4 linked regions of the Homo sapiens genome follow. The protein of the gene in region 3 interacts with the protein of the main gene of each other region in a pairwise test. Each region holds a gene or a part of one and is shown on either strand. Other genes may lie near its edges.

Region 1 (7,026 bases), on a different chromosome or scaffold from region 3:
AATATGTTTACCAAAACTAGATTTTCTCTTATTTTCCTTTTTTTTTTTTTTTTTTTTTTTTTTGAGACAGGGTCTTGCTCTATCACCAAGGCTGGAGTGCAGTGGCATGACTATCGCTCACTGCAGCCTCGACCTCCTGGGCCCAAGGGATTCTCTCACCTCAGCCTTCAGAGTAGCTGGAATTACAGGCACTCACTACCATGTCCAGCTAATTTTTGTAGAGATGGGTTTCGCCATGTTGCCCAGGCTGCGAATTTCTCTTATTTTCTAAACCACTTTTGTCAGCCAAGAATTTGCAATAATTTAAAATCAATCAATATATCAAAATCAACATGCCCTTATGTACTTACCCTATCAAAGCCCATAGCACATAGGTTTTCTATTTTTTTGGTGTATTCTGGACTAGAAACTGGTGCTCCAGCATACACATGTGCCCAAAGTCGAGCTGTCTGTTTGAACATTTCGGGATTTTGTTTGTACTATATGGGGGGAAAAATTGATTGACATGACATTACAGTTATAATATTTGATATATTTCAGCTCTTAATCGCCTACAATCCTACTTTTCCAAATAAAACAAATCTACATTTAAAATGTGATTCACTTTGCATTATAGACAACCTATGTCACTCGAGAAAAGACCACTTAACCTGAAGCTTCGACTCACAATTTGTGTTGACAATAATAAAGACAAGTAACATTAATCTACTTTAATCTCCAAATTCAACAAATATAACTAGCAAGACTAAAATTAGGTTAAGTGAGGTATTAAGAGATGTTCCAAACACTGGAAAGCAGCAAACATTATACAACTGAACACAGATTACTAGCTTATAAAAATATGTGGACATTAGAATAATTTTTTACGATGTAACCAGCTTTTGTATTACCCACAGCCCAGGCTAGAATACAACTAGATTCTTCTGTTTTCTTACAGCTGCATTAGTGTACAGTGATTTATGGAAACCCCACATGCAAAGTCCTAACTTATTACATAACTTGAGATGATTATAAACTCACAATAGAGTAATTTTATTAAAAGACTTCCCATATGCATTGGAAAGAGGTAAATTTATCAAATACTTTGGAACCACCATTACTTAGTAAAGCAAAGTATAAATTACTAACTATTCAATTCACTTTAATATTTCTTTTAAAAGTAATTTATATATTTAAATCTATTACATATTAAAACGATAAATCTAGTTTCTACCACTTATTCATCACAAGGAAATAAGTCAAATTATTGAACTATTTTAGGAGCTAAAAGAAACCCTTGAGTCCAACCTCAACGTGTAAGGCTTAGAGCTCAATAGGAAAGCAAAGCTGGAACACAAGCCATGCTTATAACAACAAATATGAACAAATAGCACATATATAAAACATGGAAAACCCTAATTGGAAGTACTCTGAGACAAATAACAGAATATATTGACAAGGATATATACATATATACATAAACAGATCTTCAAGGGAAAAGAAGAAAGATAATATATAAATTAAAATCTTATAGGTTAAAGAAGTTTGCCAAGAGGAAGTTTCCTCAGGCAGAGGAAATATGGTAGATTGGATACAATATGTAAAAATGAATGCAATGCTTGAAAAAGCATGAGTTTGAAGAAAACAAGAATTTAGGAAATAAAGCAGAGTTCAGATCATGGAAAAACTCTGCAAACTAAAGAATCTGGACTCAAGTAGATGACAGTAGAGCTACGAACAAGTTTTTGTTAGTGAAGTAAGATTTGCACTTTATAAAGCTACCTGATAGCAATGTAGAAGATGGAGAAAGGAAGAAAGAGGTTGAGAAAAGGAGATCTATCAGAGCAGTTGAAAAGAAACAATTTTTTAAAAGTGACCTATGGCAATCAGAGTAATTATGTAAATATAGTGACAGAATGATACAGGGAATGGTTATCAACAGGAGCAAAGGAGACACAGAGAAAAACTCCAAAGGCTGTGACTTGGGTGGTTAACCATATGAATGTTCCTTGGATACCTGAATGTAACACTGCCAAAACTGAATGCAGTATCATAAATCCTACAAACCTATCATTCTATGATACCATCACCTACCAATTTAGTTAAACACCAGGCTCTCGTGCTTAGGAGAGAGGGCAAGCCTAAACATTTTATCAATGTACAGGTACTAACATCAGTACAGATATGATCATCCAAGTGTGAGTGTGTACAGAAAGTAAAGGTAACAAGGTCAGAACTGAGGAACTACATTTAAGAAAGACGAGTAAGAAGGGAAATAATTGTGGGAACTAACAAAGAACAGCTATGAAGTGAGGAAGAAAAGAGGGTAATATCTTAGAAGTCAAGAGAAGAAAAACTTTCTAAGTTTAAAAAAAAAAATGTCCATTATATTCCAATGGCTTAGAGTAGGTGTTGGCAAATTTGTTTTTTGAGACAGGGTCCCGTTCTGTCACCCAGGCTGGAGTGCAATGGTGTGATCTCAGCTCACTGCAACCTCTGCCACCCAGGTTCAAGCGATTCTCCCACTTCAGCCTCTCAGGTAGCTGGGACTACAGGTGTGTGCCACCACGCCAGGCTAGTTTTGTGTTTTTAGTACAGACAGGATTTCACCACGTTGGTCAGGCTGGTCTGGAACTCCTGACCTCAAGTGATCCACCACCCACCTCAGCCTCCCAGAGTGCTGGGATTACATGCATGAGCCAACACACCTGGCCAGCAAACTGTTTCTTAACAGGTCAGATACTAATAACTTAGGTCCAGTCTCCGTTGTAACTAATAAACTCAGCCACTGTAGCTAGAAAGCGAAATGAAAAATATTTATTCTGTTCAACAAATTACAAGGTCATTGGAAACTGTGCCATGTCACATAAGTCCCATGATAGGAGGTGATTAAAATTATTAGCAGGGAGGGATCATCACTGAAAGGAAGGATAAAAAGATGGACACATACACGAGCATTAATCATAGAATCTAGATGGTAGGAATATGGGTGTTCACTATGTAATTCTTTTGACTTTATGTGTTTGAAAATACTCATGTTAGGAAAACAGCATCTATATCCAATTAAACTAGGATGTTAAAAGTCTATTTTCACTATTACACCTGACAAAATAATCCTACCACAAGAAAGAAAACCATTTCAAAATTTAGTTTCAATAGAGTATGCTCATGTGTTAATGTGCAAACCACTGAAGTGGCTAGAGACTCATACATAATATAAGAAAGTCTTTCAAAAGCGGCCATCTTACCTGATTTGCTACTACAGCATCCTGTGGATCATCTGGCTCTGCAGCTGCCAATAGTGCTTGCAATGACAATAATACCGTGCGGAGAGTCATTGCAGCTGCCCTAAAATGCAAAACATGAAAATATCCCAATTAAGAGGGCTCTGCAGGCAAAAGCAAAGTATTTTCTTAATAAAAATTAAAAAATTGTAGAGCTAAAAGTTACTTAGATCTTTATCTTAATTATATAGTTAAGTCATAGACATTTATAATTATGTATCTGCCTATCATATATTTTCTTCCTTACTTTACAATTTGCCTATTTCTTTTTTCTTTTTTTCCCCTGAGACGGAGTCTGGCTCTGTCGCCCAGGCTGGAGTGCAGTGGTATAGTCTCGGTTCACTGCAAGCTCCGCCTCCCGGGTTCACGCCATTCTCCTGCCTCAGCCTTCAGAGTAGCTGAGACTACAGGGGCCCGCCTTAACGCCCAGCTAATTTTTTGTATTTTTTTTTTTAGTAGAGACGGGGTTTCACAGTGTTAGCCAGGATGGTCTCGATCTCCTGACCTCGTAATCCGCCCGCCTTGGCCTCCCAATGTGCTGGGATTACAGGCATGAAAAACCACCTGCGCCCGGCCTTTTTTCTTTTTTTTAATGACAGTGTCTTGCTCTGCCGCTCAGGCTGGAGTGGGCAGTGGCACTATCTTGTCTCACTGCAACCTCCGCCTCCTGGGCTCAAGCGATTCTCCTGCCTCAGCCTCACGAGTAGCTGGGACTACAGGCACACACCACCACACCCAGCATTTTTTTTGTTTTTCCTTTTTTCGTAAAGACGGGGTTTTGCCATGTTGCCTAGGCTGGTATCGAACTTCTGAGCTCAGGTGATCCATCCACCTTGGCCTCCCAAAGGTTAGGGTTACAGGTGTGAGCTACTACACTCGGCCAGCTTTTCTATTTCTTAAGACAACTCGAATTCTGAACTGTCCTTGTTTTTCTTGTTGCCAAGATCCTTCTTGTTAGTTTAGTTTAGTTTAGTTTTGAGGCGGAGTCTCACTCTGTCGCCCAGGCTGGAGTGCAGTGGCGCGATCTCGGCTCCCTGCAAGCTCCGCCTCCCGGGTTCACGCTATTCTCCTGCCTCAGCCTCCCGAGTAGCTGGGACAACAGGCGCCCGCCACCACGCCCGGCTAATTTTTTGTATTTTTAGTAGAGACGGGGTTTCACTGTGTTAGCCAGGATGGTCTCGATCTCCTGACCTCGTGATCCGCCCGCCTCGGCCTCCCAAAGTGCTGGGATTACAGGCGTGAGCCACCGCGCCCAGCCACCTTCTTGTTAGTTTTATCCACTCACTTATTTTTCTATCCATTTCTCTAAACAAAGTTAAAGTGATAAATCATTAGTACTAATAGCATGTGAGGCTTTCTTTCAATGGCACTCTAAAAACAAGATACTATGAAACAAATATATTTTCTTTTTTCTTTTCTTTTATTTTCTTGAGATGGAGTCTCACTCTGCCGCCGAGGCTGGAGTGCAGTGGCGCGATCTCGGCTCACCGGAACCTCCACCTCCCTGGTTCAAGCAATTCTCCTGCCTCAGCCTCACAAGTAGCTGGGACTACAGGCACATGCCACCATGCCCGGCTAATTTTTTGTAGTTTTAGTAGAACAGGGTTTCACCGTGAGACACAGGATGGTCTTGATCTCCTGACCTTGTGATCCGCCCGCCTTGGCCTCCCAAAATGCTGGGATTACAGGCTTGAGCCACCGCGCCCGGCCATATTTTCAAGAAAATATGAAATCATTCCATAACATTCTGAAACAGGACAAGTTTTTTGGATTAAACTACATCACTTAATTTATGATTCTAAATGTATTTATAAGGAAAATATCTTTATAAAGCTAATATTTGTCTAAAAAATAGTATCTACCTGTCTAGCAATAATTCTTGGCATTTCTGTTAAAAAAAGTTGTCTCACTGGCTGGGCGCGGTGGCTCACACCTGTAATCCCAACACTTTGGGAGGCCAGGGCGGGCAATCATCTGAGGTCAGGAGTTCAAGACCAGCCTGGCCAACATGGTGAAACCTCATCTCTACAAAAAATGCAAAAATTAGCTGGGCGTGGTGGCATGTGCCTGTAATCCCAGCTGCTCAGGTGGCTGAGGAAGGAGAATCGCTTGAGCTCGGGAGGCGGAGGTTGCCGTGAGCCAAAATCATGCCATTGCACTCTAGCCTGGGCGACAGAGCGAGACTCCATCTCAAAAAAAAAAAAAAGTTGCTTTATCAATTAATAGAGGTATGTATAAATATGTGGACATATTAAAAATGTTACATGTAAAGAGAATGCCCATTTTTACCATGTAAATTAGATCATTCTTCTTTTTTTCTTTTTTTGAGATAGGGTCTCACGCTGCCTAGGCTAAAGTGCAGTGGTACAATCAAGGCTCACTGTAGCCTTGACCTCTTTGGCTCAGGTGATTCTCATACCTCAGCCTCCTGAGTAGCTGGGACTACAGGTGCACACCACCACGCCCAGCTAATTAAAAACAATTTTTTTTTTTTTTTTTTGGTAGAGACAGGGTTTCACCATGTTACCCAGGCTGGTCTTGAACTCCTGAGCTCAAGCAGTCCTCCCACCTCAGCCCCCGAAAGTGATGGGATTATAGGTGTGAGCCACGACAACTAGCCAATTACTCTAAACCAGCCTTTTTCAACTGGGTTCCTGATTTGAACCACAAAATAGAAAAAATTAGTGACTGTTTTCTCAATTTTCCCAAGTTTGGTACATAAATAGTACTTCCCTAGATGCCTACGATAAAAGTTAATTTAGGCTGGGTGCAGTGGCTGACGCCTGTAATCCCAGCATTTAGGAAGGCCGAGGCAGGCAGATCACTTGAGGCCAGGAGTTTGAGACCAGCCTGGGCAACATGGCGAAACACTGTCTGCCAAAAATACAAAAATTAGCCAGATGTGGTGGCACATGCTTGTAATCCCAGTTACTTGAGGGGCTGAGGCAGGAATCGCTCGAACCTGGGAGGCGAAGGTTATAGTGAGTCCAGATGGCGCCACCGCACTCCAGCCTGAGGGAGACAGCCAGACTGTCTCCTACACCTCCACCCCTAGCCAAAAAGTTAAGTTATTGCCAACAACCAACAATGGATGTCTTAAAGCAATGATCTCAGTGTTGTTCATCCAACCAGCAGCATCAGCATCCCTTGGGAAGTTTTCTCTATCCCAGAGCTACTGAATCAGAAACTCCAGGGTTTGAGTCCTAGCCGACGCCGTCGCCGCGCGCGCGAGGCCTGGAACACACCGCACGAGCCGCTCCCGCCCCTACCCCTTTACGCCCACGTGGAGCCGGCCCCGCCAGCGCGAGCGCGCCCTATACACCCTCCCGCCCTGCGCCTACATGCTGCCCTGGCTCTGCCCGTGTGTGGGGGGCGCTTCCGGCCCCGCGGGGGTGGGGAAAATAGGGGATTAAAAAAAAACAGCGCGCGGAACCGGGCCAGGGTTGCCCACCCCCGCCACAATGGCCTCTGGGGTGAAGTCCTGCGCTTCCAGCTGCCCGGCCACTAGGCCGCTACGCTACGGAACATGAACAAGCTCCGGGCAGAGGAGTGGTTCTGCGACGTGACCATTGTGGCCGACAGCCTCAAGTTTCGAGGCCACAAGGTCATCTTAGCCGCCTGCTCACCGTTCCTGCGGGACCAGTTCCTGCTTAACCCCAGCTCGGAGCTGCAGGTCTCCCTGATGCACAGTGCACGCATCGTGGCCGACCTGCTTCTCTCCTGCTACACGGGCACCCTGGAATTCGCTGTTAGGGACATCGTC
Region 2 (7,026 bases), on a different chromosome or scaffold from region 3:
ATGCTGAGATACTGAAGCTTTGACAGTGGGATATTAAGGGTATTGCTCCAAAAACAGGAGCATGGATGGTTCACATACTAGAGGAATGTATACACTTCTTATAGGACAGGGCTGCAAAAAATCCTGTCCTATAACACTTCTTATAGGACAGGGCTGTAAAGCTGCCTCTTGGCAGCTTTTGCCTCCTACCTCCGACCAGAGGGTCCTTACAGAACCCAGGCTAGTGGGGCCCAAAGGAAGGCCCTTCTGTCTTATCTTCAGTTATGCTATTGAGACCCCCCGGGCTGACACAGTCCTGAAAGCTCAAGTCATGCCCTCCTTCTTGCTTTTGATCTTTCAGGGGCTGTGGTGGTGAAAAAAGCCAGAGTAGGCCAGTAAGGAAGTTCTGCAAGGGTCTATATGCCCCTCATTAAAACCAGGAAAGAGAATGATTAGGACCTCCAAATCCTTAATTACAGGATCACAGACCACTGGAGCAGCAAGAGGCTGATTAGCATGCCTGACTCCCTCCTTCCCAAATGAGGAAACAGGCTCAGTGTGGGTATGGCTCAGAGTCTGACACCCAACCTCCTGGTTTCCTGAGGCCCCTGACTCTACTGACTCCAGAGCCCTGTGTATGTTGTCTCCAGTACCAGTATCCACTGCAACTCCTTTGAGGCCTGGTCCCCACTGTCTCTAGTAGCTGGCCCAGGGTCAGTAACATCTATGGCAGAGAGAGGGAACCTGTGTGGCATCCCACCCTTGGGCCCACTCTCTACCTGCTGCAGGGCACGAGGGAGGATCCCCCGGTGCTTGTAATTCTCAGTTGCCCCCATCATGGTGTATGTCTTGCCAGCTCCCGTCTGCCCATAACACATGATGGTGCCTGCAAACATTTCAAAACACGGTGACATCCAGGAAAATAGCTCCAAGGATAACTCTCCCCTCTCCCAGCATGCCTGGTGCCAGCCAGGGCCCTTTGCATGAAGATGGCCAGTGGGGGCAGCCAAGAACATCAGGAATTCCACCATGGAAGAGGATGGGTGGGCAGGGGAACAGGGACAAAAGTGGTCAAAACAAGGACATCTGCCCTGAATCTGTGGTCCCCACAATGCTCTGCTGTTCCCTCCACCAAGAGATGATCCGGCCCTAGGGCTTCTGAGAAGGACAGGGAATCTCAGGGTACAGAGGAACTGGAACTTTTCCTAAAAAGATGAGGAGGGAGATAGGAGCATTAGACTCCAGCCCTTCTCTAGCACAGCTATGAACTGCCAGGGTCTCAGGGTTGGCAGGAGGCATCAACTTCCCCACAGAGGCAAAGAGGGGCTTTCAAAATCTCCAGGAAGAGATGGAGTGGAAAGGGCATTTTCTGTCAAGGGTGAGAATTCTTTGTAGACTACAAATTCCTGCAGGATGAAACAGGGCTCCTAGTTGGTTCCATGTCACTTCCAGAAATGTACCACCATGATCAGGCCCTGATCTGGTCCACTGCCCACCCTGGGAAGACTTTCATTGCACTTCTCAACATCCTTTAGGTCTACCATCACCACCAGGCTCCGGGACACAAACCATGCAGTCACCCTGAGCTCCGGCTCCTATCTGTTCTTCCCCTTAGCATGGGCAGCCTGAGCCAGACCCCATCCCACAGGCTGCCCATGGGCATTTACATGGCAGATCTGCCCAGGCAATGCTGGGCTGTGAAAATTTTTTGCCTTTGTCACACAGACACTCTAGTTCTTGGGACTGGTGGCAGGTTTTACACAAGCGATCCTGATTCAGCATCTGAGTTGGAGCCAGAAATGGTGTCTATTAACCCAACACAAATGAACAGGAAGGAGTCACTTCAGCTGCAAATCAGAGCCCATTTGTGGTTCCACAGCACCAGTGCTCAAGACTATTCATCTCCCTGGGCCTTAGTTCCTCTGTCTTCACCTCCTCAAGGTCACAATCAGAGCATCATGAAAACCAAAAGAGAACCTCCTTAAGTCAGTGGGGACCACACCTACGTATCACATTCAGGATAAATTACAGCATCTACACTCAATGCACTTTTAAATATAAAACCTAAACTTGCAAAACAGGGAACATCCTAGTCAGCAGCCACCAGATGGCAAAGTCTACAAACTGTGACATATTCTTTTATACAATCCTATACTAGAATATCAACTGTACATTGATTGTGTTGGTAGAATACATGAAAATAGCTCCTAGCAGGAAGCTGAGAGACAAATGTTTGGACTCCATCAAATTTGTCATAAAGACGTATCTTCAAAACTAATACTTGAGAGATTTGAAACAGGATAATTGAACCCCTGTGACCTATAGAGAGCCATAGTCTTTTAATTTTCCTATGAAGGTAGAATCCCAGGACATTGGATCAAGCCATGCCCACAATGTCAACAAGCAAACAGTAAGTTTTGCAACGTAAGAACATGGAGACAGACAAACATACAAATGATAGTGAGTGAGCTTTTATTTTATTCACCATAAAATATTTGCATCTCTTACTCCTCAGGTTCTTACATAAGACAACATTTAATTAATTAAGTTACCATTATAGCCATCGAGGGCCTGAGAAACCACATCCTTTGCAACTGTCTCATAAACCAAGTCCTGGGAGGCATCGTGAAGAACTCCATCCAACTTAAACGACCAGTCTGTCTGTTGGTTATTGACAACTCCTCTCCGAATGTCTTTTTTTAAGTGAATATCAATGCTCTAGGAAAAAAGAGTGAGAAAGAAAAAAATGTTATTTGTTCAAAAATGGGTATAAAAAAAATCACTGATAGCTGAGGCCTAATCTGGAGGGAACAGAGGAAATGAACTGTAGGATGAATGGGGACTCCCACGTAGGGGCTGATATTCCAGATGAATTCTTTGGGATGGGAGAAGAGAGTTCCTGCAGGGAGATGGAAAGATCAGGAGAGTGGAGCACTTTCTAGTTTTAGCACCTCTAACCCTAGTTCACACGGTGCTGTCTTTGTTTCCCCACCTATGATATGAGGTCAAATTTATCATGTTCTTATTAAACAAGTTTTAGATAGATTCCATAAGCATAGGGAGGCCTTGAATTATGCCAGAGGGAATAGTGAGCCTGGTAACAGAGGCCTGGGCTCCAGCCTCATTGCTCTGGTTGCTGGCAGTGAGGCCTCCCTCAGCTCTGCATTATGGTGAACATCTACTTCCACACACACGCTATGAGCCAAAGTGAGTGATGATGAAATGAAAGCCACAGAGAAGGCTATGGACTTCTCAGACATAGGAATTAAGAGTAAATTGAGGGTGTCATCAGCAGATTTTTAGATGCATGCCCCTTCATAGTAAGCCATTGTAGTAGCAGCTGGCTTAGGGACATACTGGGTAAGGTCAGTGGTAGATTCCAATCTTCTTGATGAGAACTTCTGATGTAAAGACTCTTGCTGAAATCTTACACTGACTGCCCTAATGCAGGAGCTATACCTGGCTACAGAGAGAAAAATTAAGATGAAGAAAGACAGACTTGGCCGGGCATGGTGGCTCACGCCTGTAATCCCAGCACTTTGGGAGGCCGTGGCAGGTAGATCACCTGAGGTCAGGAGTTCCAGACCAGCCTGGCCAACATGGCAAAACCCCGTCTCTACTAAAAATACAAAAATTAGCCAGGCATGGTGGCACGTGCCTGTAATCCCAGCTACTAGCAGGGCTGAGGCAGGACGATCGCTTGAACCTGGGAGGCGGAGGTTGCAGTGAGCCAAGATTGTGCCACTGTACTCCAGCCTGGGCAACAGAGTGGGACTCTGTCTCAAAAAAAAAAAAAAAAAAAGAAAAGAAAGAAAGAAAGACTTGGTCCACTCACACATTAAATGCTCTGTGCTTCTGTGTTCGCTGAAAACCATGTCCAGCAGGACACATTTGATAGGGCTGCATGTGAGCTCTTTTCTGACCGCTAGGACCTGCGAGGCTTGGGCAGTTTGCCCTTGAATTTTTCCTTTGAAGAATGTCTCAATGCTGCCCAGAGTAGGCCCATAATTGTTTGCTGAATGAAAATATCTAACACTCTTACACTGTCCTAAGCCTTCAGAAGCATTCTCAGGGTGAGGATATAGGGACGGATATATCTTTCCACTTCTCTTGATAAGTATTTCTCCAGCTGTTTTGATAAGCTAAACAGTAATGAACTCAAGATATTCTTACTGCACCCCATGGGCGATTATACAATGACAGATCAATCATTAGAAAGCTTTATGAATGTGAACAAATGTCAATTCTTCTGTGTCAGATACGAGGGTAAAGGTAAACTTATTAATTTATTAAAGGTAAAATTATTAAAAGACAATTAACGATGGGATTTTATTAATTTCTTCATTAGCAGTGTGTGAGGGGGTGGTTTGGATTTGATGGGCTCTAGAGTCCATTGGATCCTGTCCAATTCTGTCTTGGTCCTTCAAAGGTTGCTTGGAAATACGGTCACACTATAGCAAGGTGGGACAGAGAGGCCCAGTCAGTTGAAGGCAAACACATCGCACTTACTCTTTTGTCATCTCCGTATCTGATCATTTCATGAGCAAAGTCATCGGTGGGTTTGACACGGACAAATGCATGAACTTTTTTCCTAGTACCCATTCTAGCTAAAAAGAAGGGAACAATGAAATTTTGAGTAGTCATTATCAAATAACAAGTAGAGGAGAGGGGTCATTCATTAAGAAGATCAGAAAAGAGTGACGAGCAGTCCATTTTTCCCTCTCTCCCTGAAAGCCAGTTTTCCTTTTCACCCCTCAGCATTTCAGTGTTCTACCCACAAGACACTGCTCAACAAATACACGCACTTTCTGCTTCACAGACTGCTTTGCCATTTTCCACCAATGACCCCAGAGAGACTGAAATACAAAGTGAAAAGAATGCTTCCTTTAGTGGCCTAATCTTAGATGTCATTTCTAGAAATGTTCTGCAACTAAGATGATGAGTCCACTTATGCTTTCCTTCATTTATTATATTTTCTTCTAAAATACTTACTATGAAATACATTAAAACTAATTTTCTTTTCATTAACTTATCTTGCTTCAGATACAGCATCCTCTTCTCCAGTAGACTAACTAGATCAGAAATAGATGACCCAGACGTATATTTGGTCCATAATAAATATTCTTTCTTCTCTTACTATATTGAGAAAAAATATCACAGACAGTCCCCTACCTCCTCTTGCTCTCCTAAAACCTAACTATATTCTCATCATTTTCTTTCAGTGTGTGTGTGTGTGTGTATGCGTGTGCATATACATATATATAGTAGTATAAATAAAGGAAGACATAGGACATATATACATACATTTTTTTTTTTTGAGACAGAGTCTCACCCTGTCACCCAGGTTGGAGTGCAGTGGTGCTATCATGGCTCAATGCAGCCTTGACCTCCCAGGCTTAAGTGATCCTCCTGCCTCAGCCTCCCCAGTAGCTGGGACTACAGGTGCGTACCACTGTGCCCGGCTAGTTTTCTTACATTTTTTTTGCAGAGATGGCGTCTTACTATGTTGCCTAGGCTGGTCTTGAACTCCTAGCCTCAAGTGATCCTCCTATCTTAGACTTCCAAAGTGCTGGGATTACAGGCATACCCAGCCGATGTTCAATATTTTTTAAAAAATTAACATTTATTTCATTGTTTTATTTTTGGAGACAAGGGTTTCTTTATGTTGTCTAGGCTAGCCTTTAACTTCTGAGCTCAAGTGATTCTCCCATCTCAACCTTCCAAGTAGCTAAGACTACAGGCGCATGGCTTGGCTTTAAAAAAAAACTAACTTTTGGCTGGGTGCAATGGCTCATACCATAATCTTAGCACTTTGGGAGGCCGAGGTGGGCAGATCCCTTGAGGCCAGGAGTTTGAAACCAGCCTGGGCAACATGGCGAAAACCCATCTCTATAAAGAATACAAAAATTAGCCAGGCAGCCAGGTGCGGTGGCTCAGGCCTGTAATCCCAGCACTTTGGGAGGCCGAGGCAGGTGGATTACCTGAGGTCAGGAGTTCAAGACCAGCCTGGCCAACATGGTGAAATGCCATCTCTACTAAAAATACAAAAATTAGCTAGTTGTGGTGGCAGACGCCTGTAATCCCAGCTACTCAGAAGGCTGAGGCAGGAGAATCGCTTGAATCTGGGACGTGGAGGGTGCAGTGAGCTGAGATCGCGCCATTGCACTTCAGCCTGGGCGACAGAGAGGGACTCCATCTCCAAAAAATAAATAAATGAATAAATAAATAAAATAAATAAATTACCAAGCATGGTGGTGCATGCCTATAGTCCCAGCTACTCAGGAGGCTGAGGTGGGAGAATCACTTGAGCCTGGGGAAGCTGAGGCTGCAGTTAGCTTTGATCATACCACTGCACTCCAGCCTAGGTGACAGAGTGAGACCATATCTCAAAAAAAAAAAAAAAAAAAAAACTAACGTGGGCCAAGTGCGTTGGCTCTTGCCTGTAATCCCAGCACTTTGGGAGGCTGAGGATGGCAGATTACCTGAGGTTAGGAGTTCAAGACCAGCCTGGCCAACATGACGAAACCCTGTTTCCACTAAAAAAAAATACAAACATTAGCTGGGTGTAGTGGCAAGCGCCTGTAATCTCAGCTACTCAGGAGGCTGAGACAGGAGAATTGCTTGAATCTGGAGGGTGGAGGTTGCAGTGAGCCAATGTCATGCCACTGCACTCCAGCCTGGGTGACAGAGCAAGCTCAGTCTCAAAAAAAAAAAAAAATCAAAAAATCTAAGTAACTTTTAAGATGTTAACCATAAAAACCCCTCATGTATAACAGGGACTACTTTTAATTAGATTATCTTGCTTTTTTAAAAAGTACATTAAATAATGGTAATATTTTATTTTATTTTATTTTTTTTTTTTGAGGCAGAGTCTCGCTCTATCACCCAGGTTGGAGCGCAGTGGCGCCATCTCAGCTCACTGCAAGCTCCGCCCCCCAGGTTCACGCCATTCTCCTGCCTCAGCCTCCCGAGTAGCTGGGACTACAGGCGCCCGCCACCAAGCCCCGCTAATTTTTCTGTATTTTTAGTAGAGATGGGGTTTCACCG
Region 3 (7,026 bases):
AGCTGCCTTGGCCTCTCAAAGTGCAGGCATTACAGGCATGAGCCACCAGCCCAGCCTAAGCTTTTCTTTGATATGTACAGAAATAGATTTCTAAAACAAAAGCCAGCTAACTATAGCTCAAGGGCCAAATCTGGCTGCCTGATTTTGTAAATAAAGTTTTATTAGCATATAGCCACACCCATTCATTTACCTATTGTCCTGTCCGTGGCTGCCCCCTCACTATAGCAGAAGAGTTGAATAGTCACAAAAGAGACCACATGGCCTGGCCTGCATAGCCAAAAATATTTACTGTCAGGCCCTTTGCAGAAAAAGTATGCTGGTCCGTGACCTAAAAAGAAAGGATTTTAGAGGTGCTGGTGTTGTGTTGTGTTTGTATCCAAAAGGCAACTGGAAATCCTTTGGCCTACCCACATGTGACAACACACACTGTCCTATACTCACTGGGTCAGTTTCTCGCCCAGCATCGTGTATTGCCACAGTTGAATTTACTAGACCTTTTCCTGTGATTGAGAGCTGTATACTGGGCAGAAGGAACCTGCCAACTGCAACAGTGACTGTGGAGTTTGGACACCATGGCATTTGTATCAGGTTGCAATGCATTTCCTGCCTTTAAACGCCTTGTACCCAATGCAGTGTTGAATGACAGGCAGTACTCCAAACCAATATTGAATTGTCAAAGAAGAAGTAACAACTATGACAAAATGTCCAGGTGTGACTCTGCCAAGATTTTTTTAATACTTAAATCTTTAAGACACAAATGTGAGTAATGAAATAGAGAAGGCCTTATTATATATAAATAATTTCATGAGTAGAAAACCCAGGCATTGCTATCACATTTTTTCCTAATTTTGTGGCCTGAAAATTGTATTCTCATCCTAAATTCCTAAGAGTAATGCTTTAATTTTTAATAATCTCAGAATAATATAAACCTCTAGAATATTCTATATGTTAAGACCCAAGATCTTGATTTGTTTGGTTTCTGGTCTGAAGTCTATTGAGCATGAATGCATCTTATGCTGGATAGAACACTGCAGTGGTTGAAAATGGAGTCTTCATTCATTCCTCCTTTTCAGGATGCTATCCAGCCAGTATGTACCTGTGCTGCTTGTATACACCTGGAATCCGTGAAGCTAGCTCACCCTATGTTTTCTGGCTAAGCCTTATCCATGCTGTTGTTGAATAGTTGGCATGCCACCACTGGATCCCTATCTTAGAACTGGTAGACTGAAAGCTTATGAAGACAGGAACATGTTCTTTTTCACTCTTACTGTGTACTGTACTATACACAGAGTTGCTGCTCTCTATTGTCTTTTGAATATTATGAAAACTTTGCAAGCAAATGTCTTTGAAAGTTGCTTATAATGTTTAAATTACTATTAAAATATAAGATACCACTTTGTGATAGGAGGCATGACTCAGGGAGGGCTGGCTTGTTCCTGTCTTTTAAACCTGATTTTGAAAATATGCTATTGGTTATGATAAAATAAACAATCCTCTTCCTCTTCCTTTTTCTGTTTTGTGAATTTGTTTTCAGGCCAACCATTTAAACTGGATCCCAAATCTGCTCATCGAAAACTGAAGGTGTCCCATGATAACTTGACAGTAGAACGTGATGAGTCATCATCCAAGAAGAGTCACACACCTGAACGCTTCACCAGCCAGGGGAGCTATGGAGTAGCTGGAAATGTGTTTATTGATAGTGGCCGGCATTATTGGGAAGTGGTCATAAGTGGAAGCACATGGTAAGCAACTTATTTCTATTGTCCTGCAGTTATAAAAAGGCACATCTCATTCTGTACTTAGAGAGTCAACCCATACTGTAATGCATCTTAAAGAATAAAATGCAGAAAAGTTGTATTAGTCAGCTCTTGCTAGGATAATACTGCATAACAAACACCCCCAAACTCAGCAGATTCAAACAACAACCATATATTACTAATACCCACACCTGTGGGTTCTCTGTTCAAGATTATAGAGCTCTGATCATTGGATGAGCTATACCATGTTAACACTGCTCTTTCATGCCATGAAACATGGGTTGGCAAACCACAGCCCATGAGCCAAACCTGGCCTGCTACCTGGTTTTGTAAATAAAGTTTTATGGGAATACAGCCAGGTCCATTTTTTTACATATAGTCCATGGCTGCCTTTCAGCCACAACAGCAGAATCGAGTAGTTAAGAGAGAATCATATGGTCTACGAAGCCAAAAATATTTACTTACTTTCTGGTCCTTTCCAGAAAAAGTTTGCCATTCCCTACTTTTAAACATCACTCTTCATCATTACACAAAACTAATTTCTGTTGCCTTGTATGTTTTATGGTTCTAGACTGGACCAATTAGTGCAAATAGCTAAGGGTTGAATGGTGGGGGTGAAGCAGTGATCATAGGCTGGGAATAATTTCAAAAGGCCTGTTAGATCCAGCCCAGTGACTTTAGCCCACTGAGTTCTCTAAGAATAAGGGCAAAGGTCAGGACACAATTACATTGGAATTAGTTAACCTCACAAAGTTAACCTTGCCTAATCCACAGCCACAACTGCACCCCTTTGACCGTCTGTCTCACAAATGCCTGCTTGCTATTGATCAAAAAGGGAGCTATTTTATTTTTATTTAACAAGCCCTCATATGGTACAAGTATGTGCCAGGCACTGGTCTAAGCATTTTACAGATGTCAACTCATTTATTCAGCCTTACAGCCCTACAAAGGTAGGTGCTAATATTATCCACTTTACTGATGAGGTGACTGAGGTATATGCTGAAGATCACAGGGTTACAAAGCTCACAGGTGGCAGAGTCAGTAAGTCTGCAGTCAAGGGTCAGGCTCTTAACCAGCAGTCCACAAACATTATCTGTAAAGGGCCAGAGATTCAATATTTCTGGTTTTGCATGCCAAATGATTTTTGTCACTAATACTCGACTCTTCTGTTGTAGTGGGAAAGCAGCCACAGACAACACCTACACAAATGGACATGGCTGCGTTCCAATAAAACTTCATTTATAAAAACAGGCAGAGGGCCAGAGTTGGCCCCTGGGTAGTAGTTTGCTGTTCCCCGCTCTTAACCACCATGGTATGCTGCTATTCACAAAAGGGTGGTATATTTTTGAAATGCTATAATTACTCTCTAGGGTTTATGACAGTGTACGTAATGAGTGATAGCTGAATCCTTGCTTTAAAAAATAAAATCAACATTCAAAATTGCATAGCCTGAAGATGGTGAGTATAACAGTGTTTCTTTCAATATAAGCATGATAAAACACTTATTTATATATAAAAAAACCTTTCAATTCAAACCTATGCAAATAATGTGACATGGCTGAGTCCTTTATATTGTAGGTAGAAATTAGCCAAAAATCTAAGAAGTGAATTGTAAGCTTCCCATCTCTCCCAATAATGGTACATACTATATTGGCTGAGCGAGTAGGTTTTCCTTTGTTGCTATCCTCATAATTCTCTTTGCCTAGAAGAGTTTTCTGTTCCAACATCCTGCCAGAGGATGGAGGACAAATCCTTCACCCCACTAGGCTCTGGGCTAGATTGGCATTTGCAATTTTTAGCTGCAGTGGGGCAAAATTAAAGCACAAAGGAAAACACAATGGATGCAGGTACAAAAAAAGCAAATGTTTCTAGTTAATTAATGTGCTGTATTAATCTGGGATAGAATCCAGGGTCTAAATGATTATTACTCTATTAATAATTAATTATGATAAATGAAACCTGATCATTATGATCTCATTGCCATTGATGAATAGTTTGCAAAATTCCATCAGACCACTTCAGTTATATAAACACACATCAGCATTACCTTGAAAACACCCTCCAGATGTCAAAACTAACTCATGAGGGGGAAAAGAAATTCTAAAATTAATTGCTACACAATTAATCTTTACAAACCTGACGGTGTCAATTTCAGAAAAATCTTCATGTAGAAAGTCACTTTACATTTCCTTGGGGGGTATTAGCAAGGAAGGGGCACCCCCTACGATTAAATGCCTGTGACATCTTGACTTGCAACAGCTAATGACATATTTGCTTATGAAATATAGTCCTGACTTTAAATTGATGTGTACATTATGATCTGTGCAATGGGGCACGTTAACATTGCTCCGAGAGACATAATTTTTATACTTTGAATTCTCCGTGTCTCACTGCGTAACTTAATGGAACATTACATTCTGCCTGCACATTTCAAGCTCAATGGAAATATGTACCTAGTTTCACAGATTAATGATACTATAATGGTATTTTCCTTTGCTTAATGGACTATACACTTAGTATTTTCTTACTCTCTAATGCTAATGTGCACTTGGTGTTTTATGAAATGGTGTTAACTAAATGAGTAATAACGGGTTCATGCAAAGATTATTAGACCAGAAGGGGTGGGGGCAGCATACAACTCTGGATTTTGCTCCCAATTTTAATCTTCTGTTTCTACTTGCTACATGTAGTCAGCCATACCTGCCACAGCTATTTCATAGGGTTCAGTTAAGGTTCAAATGGGAAATAAACATCAAAGTAATAAAAAATAAAAATGCTGTGCCACAACAAGAAGGAAACAATACAGATGTGGTGATTTTGTGATGCAGGTTCCAAATTGTCTGAAAAGCGGAAATAGTATTCACTGGGGTATACAGAACATTTTTGGGGGGTGGGAGATACTGACAATTGCAAAATGAAAACCTTTCCAAAATGTATGTATTAGTCTGTTTTCATGCTGCTGGTAAAGACATAACCAAGACCAGGCAATTTGCAAAAGAGGTTTATAATGGACTTACTTACTTACAGTTCTATGTGGCTGGGAAAGCCCACAATCATGGCAGAAGGCAAGGAGGAACAAGTCCCGTCTTACATGGATGGCAGCAGGCAAAAAGAGAGCTTGTGCAGGGAAACTCCCCCGTTTTAAAACCATCAGATCTCATGAGACTTATTCACTATCACGAGAACAACACTGAAAGGACCTGCCCCCATGATTCAATTTCCTTCCACCGGGTCCCTCCCACAACATGTGGGAATTCAAGATGAGATTTGGGTGGGGACACAGCCAAACCATATCAGTGTATCAAATAAACAGATGACATTTGAGACCCTCGATGCATGCCACAGAAGGGAGCCAGAAGCTTACAGGACCCTGGAAGGGCTGGGGCATGAAGTCAGGGAGTCTGCTGCTCTAGTTCATGGAGTCATGATGAGCTGTAGCTGCTGCAAAGTTGCCCACAGCACAAGGCAGGTGTACTCAGGCGCTCATCTAGAAGCTTCCACCAACCGCACGTCTACTGTCTGCCATCAGGAAAGCGTGTTTCCCCTCCTCTAAGCACTTCTGGATCTTGTGCAAAGGCATCACAATAGCAGAGCCTGACCCAGACTCCTACAGGAAAGGGGATTCTGGGAAATGCAACTTGGATTCTCCTCATAAGCAGGAGAGGATGGACGGGAGGGAAGAGAGGATGCAACATTGATGACAGACAGGCCTGCACACTGGGCTTGGCAGATTATCAATTCCATCCTTCTTTTGGATTTAGTGATGGCATGTTGTGTTAATTTTCTTTTTAAACAAACACACCACTCTTAAAGTGATTGTATTTTAAGTCCAGTGTGATTTTTTTTAAAGAATGTCATTTTATTAAAGACCCATGAAATTTTTCTCTCTGCATTGGGTAAGGTACCATATGTTAATATCCAATTAGACTGGTTTCTGCTATAACATATTAAAAGTTCAACTGTGAGTCATTTACTCTTTATAAAGAGTGATGGGTTTTGTTTATCTTAATAACTGAAATACGATGAATATTACAGAGGCATGACTCAGAGGGGTAAAAAGAGATTAAGATGCTTAGAACATTGTAGAAAGCATTCTTTGGATTTTTTTGAGCAGCAAGAGAACATTTAGAATAACCAGAAGATCCGTCTGCTCAAACACGTTCAGAATTTTTTTTCCAGTATAATCAGAAAGGCTCTTGGCAGTGATGAACTGCACAATTTCTGGTTACGGATGGCATTGTAGAATGTAGTTCGTGTTTGTGGGTTTTGAGTCATCCTGAGTTCAAATTCTGATTCTGGTACTTATTGTTAATATGTGCCATCAGGCAATAATAATAAAATAAATAGCAGTTACTGAATATTACATGCCAGGTCCTGTGCCTGGGACTTAACATGTATTCTCTCCTTTACTCCTTAAAATAACACTGTATATTTCTCAATATACATGAGAAAATTGGGGCTGAGTAATGACAAAGGATTTATCCCTGCAAATGGGAATCATCTTCTGTGCTTGCCCTTGGCAAAGTGCATTCAGAATCAGAAAATGACAGACATGGTGTTAAATGAAAAATTATAAGAAGGTCAAAAGGAGAAGTCTAGGGTTGTGCTGTCCAGTATGGTAGCTATGAGCCACAGGCAGCTATTTAAATCATTTAACTTAATGAAAATTAAATAAATTTAAAGTTCAGTTCCTCAGTCTCACCAGCCGCAGCTAAAGTGCCCAGTAGCCATATGTGGCTTGTGGTTACCATATCGAGGAGAGCAGAACATTTCAGTCATTGAAGAAAGTTCTTTTGGTCAGCACTGGTCTAGCGAATTCATTGTGTAGATTTTTATAAGAGTGAAAAAAAGCAGCAAAACTCAAAGTTCAAATTCTCCGTAGTGTTTGAGCTGAAAACAGAAATGTGGGTAAATACGACGCTTCTTTCCACCCACTACTTTCCACCCACTTTCCATGTTTGGGAGGGAAGGAGATGAGGAACACAGATGTTGGGGTTCTTGCCAAGCTTTCACTTAAAGAAAATGAACAGGGACAACAAATGATCATGTTTTTATAACCCCTGAGGACCACAGAACGGATTTAACGTGCATGTGCAACATGGCTCATTGTTTTTGTTGTTGCTGTTTTGTTTCCGCAGGTATGCCATTGGTCTTGCTTACAAATCAGCCCCGAAGCATGAATGGATTGGGAAGAACTCTGCTTCCTGGGCGCTCTGCCGCTGCAACAATAACTGGGTGGTGAGACACAATAGCAAGGAAATCCCCATTG
Region 4 (7,278 bases), on a different chromosome or scaffold from region 3:
TCCTGCTCTTGTGGCAAGAATACCCCCAGCTCCCCTCCTGGGACTCCCTGACTCCTTGATTGCCTCTATCCATCCCTCCACCTCAACCACAAGGGCAGGGCTCATGGTACAGGAGGGGTGTGTGTGTGTGTGTGTGTGTGAGACTAACCCAGAGGAAGGGGGGGTGTGGGGTAAGCACGAGGATCAAAAGAAGCAGGAAATTCTCTTCTGTCTCTGGTTCCTGGGAACTTCTTCTTTTTTTTTGCCTGCTCTTGTTGCCCAGGCTGGAGTGCAATGGCTCGATCTCAGCTCACTGCAACCTCCACCTCCCAGGTTCAAGTGATTCTCCTGCCTCAGCCTCCCGAGTAGCTGGGATCACATGCATGCACCACCACACCTGGCTAATTTTGTATTTTTAGTAGAGACAGGGGTTTCTCCATATTGGTCAGGCTGGTCTCGAACTCCCCACCTCAGATGATCTGCCTGCCTTGGCCTCCCAAAGTGCTGGGATTATAGGCACGAGCCACCGCACCTGGCCCAGGAACTTCTTTAAGCTCTAGGAAGATGGGGAGAGCTGGGGTAGTTCTGAGATTAACCGTCCCTACTCCAAATAGGAACAAGCCCAAGGAATGGGCATGGAAAGAAATCAACTGATCCTTCCTGATCCAAGTTCTTCCTTTGAAGATGCACTGAAGGTTCTTGGAGACATTTGAAAAATCTGAACCTCTTGCCCAGAACTCTAGAGGCATTATAAATAGATAACGTACTTTCACACCTACAAGGTGTCTGCTCACATACACCATCTCATTTTATCCTCATAAGAGACTGGCAAGCCTTACAGCTGGCAGAGCTCAGTCTTGGAAGAGACATACCTCATATGTGCACGTCACTTAAGAGGCCTTTCTCCTACCACCTTTTGTCATCACACAGATGTGTGTCTCTTCCTCTCAATGGTGAAGACGAGCCAGCCTAACCAATCAATGCCTGAATCCCATCGAGTACCCCATACAGGGCCTTGTATAAGTAGGTGCTCAATAAATTTTGTAGATGGATGAATAAATGCCAGTGACCAGATCAGGGAGAAGTAAAACAGGGTCTCCTACTGGAGAAAATAGTGTTGCTGTTGTTCTAAGGGAGCAAGCTCAGGCATCTGTTCCTACAGCCTGGTACATTCACTCTGAGGCAGGCACCTGACATCATTTTAATATTTATTATGTTATCATTATCATAACTGTCACTTATTGTCCACCATTCAAAGTTAAGTTCTTTGCAAATATCAACTCATTGTTTCTCACATCCACTGTTATGAGCTCCATTTAACAGATGAGGAAATGGAGGCACAGACAGGTTAAGTAATGTGCCCAAGGTTATTTAGCCAAAAATAGTGGAGCTGGGATTCAAACCTGATTGTTTATATCCTGGAATTACAATTTTCTTGTTTTGCTTTTTGAGACAGAGTTTCGCTCTTGTCGCCCAGGCTGGAGTGCAATGGCCCGGTCTCGGCTCACTGCAACCTCTGCCTCCCAGGTTCAAGTGATTCTCCTGCCTCAGCCTCCCCAGTAGCTGGGATTACAGGCGCACGCCATTACACCTGGCTAATTTTTGTGTTTTTAGTAGAGACGAGGTATCGCCATGTTAGCCAGGCTGGTCTCGAACTCCTGACCTCAGGTAATCCGCCTGCCTTGGCCTCCCAGAGTGCTGGGATTATAGGCATGAGCCACCATGCCAGGCCTCGGACTTAGAATTTTCTTTTCTTTTTTTCTTTGAGCGGAGTCTTGCTCTGTCCCCCAGGCTGGAGTGCAATGGCGTGATCTTGGCTCACTGCAACCTCTGCCTCCTGGGTTCAAGCGATTCTCCTGCCTCAGCCTCCTGACTAGCTGAGATTACAGGCACCCACCACCATGCCCGGCTAATTTTTGTATTTTTAGTAGAGACGAGGTTTCACCATATTGGTCAGGCTGGTCTCGAACTCCTGATCTCAGGTGATCCGCCTGCCTCGGCCTCCCAAAGTGCTGGGATTACACGCGTGAGCCACTGCGCCCGGCGACTTACAATATTCTAAGTTCCTCCACTTCCCTCAGCTTAGCCTCACAATGGTCCTGGCAAGCAGATAGGAGTTTCCGCCGACCACCCAAGGCCATAACTGCACATGGGGGCAGATGTGGAACTAGAACCCAGGTCTCCCTGGGGCTTGTTCTGACACACAAAGGTCTGCATTGTGAAAGGACATGAAAGGCACACCAGTGGGCTGCCCCACTGTGTGGGGACTTAGGACCCAGCTATATCCATGACTGTTAATTCACCTCGGGATGCAGCGTTCCTGTAAGAAAAGAAAAGGAGAGCTACGATACGTGGACAGAGGCTTTTGCTCCAGTTTCCATAGACACTGCCCCGTTTGCTCATGCTGTTCCCTCTTGTTAGAACATCTTCATCCCACGCTCTTACTTCTCGCTGACTCATCATGTTTCACAATACACTTGGATTTTTCTCTCTTCCGGGAAACCTCTGCCCCTCCCTGAAGAGGGATAAAGTGACCCTCCTCATACTCCCAGAGTACCAGGTGATTCTCTATAGCATTATCATTAAAAATCAGGGGCTGCATTCTCTCCCTCTGTCCCAGTAGTCTGGGAACTAACTCCTCAGGAGCAGGGACTCCCCTTTCTCATCCTGGTGTTTCCTATTGGCAATGCCTGCCACTCAGTAGTAGGCGCTTGTTGACTGAGACTATTGATCACAGGCAGGTTCGAATGTCTTTGTTCCCTCATCTCTACCCCTGTTAAGGGATTACGGAGTGTCCTATTCATTTCGGGCATATAGAAAATGCTGTTAAAGTTCATTGAATTGAATGAAACAATTAATCGTTCTGCAAAATCTGAGCAGAGAAGTCATTTGGTTTCAAAATACTTGGATAAAAACATTACGGTGGCTCACGCCTGTAATTCCAACACTTTGGGAGGCCGAGGCGGGTGGATTACTTGAAACCAGGAGCTCGAGACCCTGACTCTACTAAAAATACAAAAATGAGCCGGTCGTGGTGGCGCGCGCCTGTAAATCTCAGCTACTCAGGAGGCTGAGGCACGAGAACAGCTTGAACCGGGAGGCGGAGGTTGCAGTGAGCCGATATCGCCACTGAACTCCAGTCAGGGCGACAGTGAAACTCTGTCAGAAAAACAAGAAACAAAAAAACTGTGAGGTACTGAGATCACAAACTGGTGCTCAAAATATACTGATTTCCTTTCTCGTCTGGACTAAACGGGGGTAGGGAAGGGTGAGAAGGAGGGGATCGGCCCTCCCAACAAGTCTCATCTTCCCCAGATGCTGCTTGGTGCTCAGGGGCTGCAAGTACTCTGTCCTTGCACAGAGGGTTGGGGACTCCAGCTGTGCATGGGGGCACACATTAGGCCCACAGCTTGTAATGGACCAGTAGTAAAGTAAGGGAGGGGAAGCAGACTCTCTCTTGGAAAGGAGGCTCCTGAGTCCTTCTTGGGGCTTCCCCCACCAACTGTTTCCCAAACCAGCATACAGTAGGCACTTAGTAAATACTAAACCTAGTAAAGGACTGAATGATGGTAGACCGAACCCCCAAAGCAAAAGAGAAAGGGTCCAACAGCGCCTCCTTGCGGTGCTCTGCCCCAAGCCACGGGGAGAAACGTTGCAGCCCGCGCCGAACGCCGGGCAGCACAAAGGATCCCCGACTGCCGGGGAGCGGTGCTCGGAGGGCACAGGTCTACGCCATCCCCCACGCAGTTTCGGAGATGGAGCGCTGGGCCCATGGAGGGAAGGCGGCAGGCTCGGCGGCTCCGGCAGCTTGCTGGGGCAGGGGCTCAAGGCGGCAGTCCGATAGTGGAGGCCGCTGAGAACTGTCACGGAGCTGCGTCTGTACAGCGAGCATCCCTTATTTATTCAGGGCGAGTGTGTATTTGGGGCGGCGTGCAGGGGGCTGACAAAGACCGGAGAGCTCCCGGTGCGGCCGCCGGCGGAGCGAAGACTGGAACCCGTATGAGCGCCCCCCAGCGCCCCTGAGCGCTCGCCGCCGGTGCACGGCGCACCCCGCGGGAGGCAGGGATCAGCAAAGCCGTGCGCCCCGAGGCCCGCCCCCGTCTCCGCACAAAGACCGTGAGTCCCGGGTCCGAGCCTTCCGCGCGGGGATCGGGCGGTTGTCCGGCGGGTCGTCCTTCGACGGCCTCCTGGCCTCGCCGGAGCGGGTGCGGGGAGGCCCACGCAGCGACGGCTGGAGGAGGGGTGGGCGGGGCTGCCGGGGGTGGGGTCCCCGGGGCGGGGCGGGGCGCGCTGTGTCGCGGGTCGGAGCTCGGTCCTGCTGGAGGCCACGGGTGCCACACACTCGGTCCCGACATGATGGCGAGCATGCGAGTGGTGAAGGTAACCGCGTATAGGATGACCCCTTTCTCTTGGCTCCCCTCGCCTCCCGCATTCCCTCCTCCCTCCATCCCCTCCGCGGCTCTCCGAGCACATTTATTTATTTGTCTGGGCACCAGGGCTGGCTGAATCCCTGTCCTCCCCGCCCTCTACTCAGAGGAGGACTGGCCTGCAAGAGTGGCCAGAGCTGGGGTTTTGGGGGTTTGGAGGCCTCTGCTTGAGCCGTTCGCGTGGTGAAGATGAGCCGGCTCCCCCAAAACTGGTTTCAATTTCGCTTTTCCTGCCTGAAACTTGTGATAACAACTGGGTGCATCTCCAGTGCAGGAAAAGTCCTTGGCATCTTGGTGCCAGGCATTCTGCTACTGCTGGTGGTGGGTTATGAACACAGATGACCAGGATGAAGTCCTTGCCTTGGAATAAGCCCATAGCCCATCCCATAATTTGATGCCTGTATTACTAGAGTCCTGAGAAACACGGAATGCTGATTAGAATTTGGGACAAAGTTCCCTGAGTATTCTCTGGAGGAAAAGATGCGGAGGTGGACCTGGAAGGCCTCCTGGAGTAGGTGGCTTGCGTTCGTGAGTTCTACAAGTGTTGAATGCCTACATGTGCTGGCCCTGTTCTAGGAGGGGGGGGGGGGCGGGCAGAGATGAACACAAATCCGGCCCTTGTTGAATTTTGTTCCTATCAGGGACACAATTTGAAATAAGATCTGGAAGGATGGGGAGGGGGCAGTTTCCTCCAGAAGGTGGGAAAACCCAGGGTGTTTGGAGATGGATTAGGGAGGAAGGTGATCCTGGTGAAGTGAGTCTGGCACCCCAAGTCTTTCAGAAGTGCCCCTTCCAGTCTGCAGGGTGGAGGGGCAGGCTCTAGGAAGAGGGTGCCTGCTACCCTCAGCCTCTGAGAAGAAAATGGCCTCAGACTGGGATGCCCAGAGCAGGCTTGGCCTAGATACTAAATCTGGAGGTTGGCAGCAAAATGAGGCAGAGGGTCTTTCCAGCCAAGTGGAAGAGAGATGGGAGCCAGAATTTATTGCATTGGAACCATTACATGCCAAACGGTTTACATGGTTATTTCATCTAATTCGCACAGCAGTTCTGTGAGATAAGTAATATATACCCGCATTTTACAAATGAGGAAATTGAGGCACAGAGGAAATAACTTGCTTGTCCAGAGTCTTTCAGTAAGGAGCAATGGGACTGGAATATGAAACCAGGTCCACAGGCCTCCAGCCTGCAGGCTCTCTTAATGGCCTTTCTACTTTCATTTTCTGTTCCTCTGAGTCAGGTGATTTCCTAGTAGGCAGTAGGAAAGAACTGTGTGTTTTAGGTTGGGTTTCAACTTCCTCAGGCTTTGGGAAAGTTCTGGCAGAACTCATCCTAAACAGATAAAGTTCAAGTGTCTTTATCTTTCCAAGACCTGGAAAATGTCTATTCCAGATCTTCTCCGGTCAGCCCTGGGCTTTGTTCTTGCCAAAGAGTCACAGATGATAGAGAAACTCTTACAAGTGCAGATGCTTCTAGTTTGGGGTAAAGATAAATGAAGGGCCATTGACCCTGGGTGGAAGGCACCAGAAGCAGCTTATTGGTTGAACAGAAATAGAACATAGGCTGAGGGATAGGAGGGGGGCATGGGATGTGTTTATATTATATGTTGGGGGTGGGGGTAAGGCAGAGAAAGTTCAAATGGTCCACAGTGTTAAAGGACCCCTCCCCACTTGTGGACTGGGTTTGGAGAGCTTCAGTTTCTCAACCTCATCACTACTGACATTTTGGGTCACATAACTGTTATGTATCCATTGTATGTTTTTAGATTTGAGGTTACTACAAGGTTTGTAAATAATATCTTATAACCTGTTATTTTAAACTGATGACAAGTTAACACTGATTACATAAACAAACAAGCAAAATGAAAACTAATGAAGGCCAGGCGTGGTGTCCCACTCCTGTAATATCAGCACTTTGGGAGGCTGAGGTTCGCGGACTGCTTGAGCCTAGGAGTTCGAGACCAGCCTGGGTAACACAGCCAAACCCCATCTCTACAAAAAGTACCAAAATTAGCCGGGCATGGTAGCACACTGCTGTAGTCCTAGCTACTTGGGAGGCTGAGGTAGCAAGATCACCTGAGCCCAGGAGGTTGAGGCTGCAGTGAGCTGTGATTGTGCCACTGGACTCCAATCTGGGTGACAGAGTGAGACATTGTCTCAAAAAAAAAAAAAAAAAAAAAAAAAACAACTAATACAAACTGTATACTTTAACTTCGTCTTTCCGCTTACTAACTTTTTGTTGTTTCTATTTCTTTCCTTCTTTCTTTCTCTCTCCCTTTCTTTCCTTCCTTCCTTCCTTAAGATGGAGTTTCACTCTTGTTGCCCAGGCTGGAGTGCAATGGTGCCATCTCAGCTCACCGCAACCTCCGCCTCCCAGGCTCAAGTGATTCTCCTGCCTCAGCCTCCTGAGTAGCTGGGATTACAGGCAGGCACCATCACGCCTGGCTAATTTTGTATTTTTAGTAGAGACGGGGTTTCTCCATGTTGGTCAGGCTAGTCTCGAACTCCTGACCTCAGGTGATCCACCCACCTCAGCCTCCCAAAGTGCTGGGATTACATGAGCCACTGTGCCCGGCCATTTCTATTTCTTTCTTATTGTACTGTCTACCTCTTGAAAAATTGTTGTAGTTATTATATTTAATTGGTCATCTTTTCCTCTTTCTACTTAAGATATGAGTAGTGTATATACCATAAATACAGTGTTATACTAATCTGTGTTTTTCTTTCTTTTTTTTTTTGAGACGGAGTTTCGCTCTTGTTGCCCAGGCTGGAGTGCAATGGCACGATCTCAGCTCACTGCAACCTCCGCCTCGTGGGTTCAAGTGATTCTCTTACCTCAGCCTCCCGAGTAGCTGGGGTTACAGGCACCCGCCACC

The links.
Region 1: the proteins of MID1 (region 3) and UBE2K interact in binary tests that used the Homo sapiens proteins (3 or more experiments, as listed by UniProt).
Region 2: the proteins of MID1 (region 3) and KIF9 interact in binary tests that used the Homo sapiens proteins (3 or more experiments, as listed by UniProt).
Region 4: the proteins of MID1 (region 3) and UBE2L6 interact in binary tests that used the Homo sapiens proteins (3 or more experiments, as listed by UniProt).

The regions. Positions count from the first base shown.
Region 1 is NC_000004.12:39,771,135-39,778,160, reverse strand, and holds part of UBE2K (ubiquitin-conjugating enzyme E2 K), read right to left. Parts: exon of another isoform or gene 6,462-7,026; intron 3,328-6,461; coding exon 3,228-3,327; intron 480-3,227; coding exon 351-479; intron 1-350. UniProt on the Homo sapiens protein: Accepts ubiquitin from the E1 complex and catalyzes its covalent attachment to other proteins. In vitro, in the presence or in the absence of BRCA1-BARD1 E3 ubiquitin-protein ligase complex, catalyzes the synthesis of 'Lys-48'-linked polyubiquitin chains.
Region 2 is NC_000003.12:47,272,794-47,279,819, forward strand, and holds part of KIF9 (kinesin-like protein KIF9), read right to left. Parts: intron 4,587-7,026; coding exon of another isoform or gene 4,582-4,586; coding exon 4,489-4,581; intron 2,698-4,488; coding exon 2,532-2,697; coding exon of another isoform or gene 2,515-2,531; exon of another isoform or gene 2,435-2,514; intron 866-2,434; coding exon 759-865; intron 1-758. UniProt on the Homo sapiens protein: Essential for normal male fertility and for progressive motility of spermatozoa.
Region 3 is NC_000023.11:10,449,586-10,456,611, reverse strand, and holds part of MID1 (E3 ubiquitin-protein ligase Midline-1), read left to right. Parts: intron 1-1,534; coding exon 1,535-1,742; intron 1,743-6,895; coding exon 6,896-7,026. UniProt on the Homo sapiens protein: Has E3 ubiquitin ligase activity towards IGBP1, promoting its monoubiquitination, which results in deprotection of the catalytic subunit of protein phosphatase PP2A, and its subsequent degradation by polyubiquitination.
Region 4 is NC_000011.10:57,564,666-57,571,943, reverse strand, and holds the start of UBE2L6 (ubiquitin/ISG15-conjugating enzyme E2 L6), read left to right. Parts: upstream 1-4,271; 5' UTR 4,272-4,332; coding exon 4,333-4,359; intron 4,360-7,278. UniProt on the Homo sapiens protein: Catalyzes the covalent attachment of ubiquitin or ISG15 to other proteins. Functions in the E6/E6-AP-induced ubiquitination of p53/TP53. Promotes ubiquitination and subsequent proteasomal degradation of FLT3.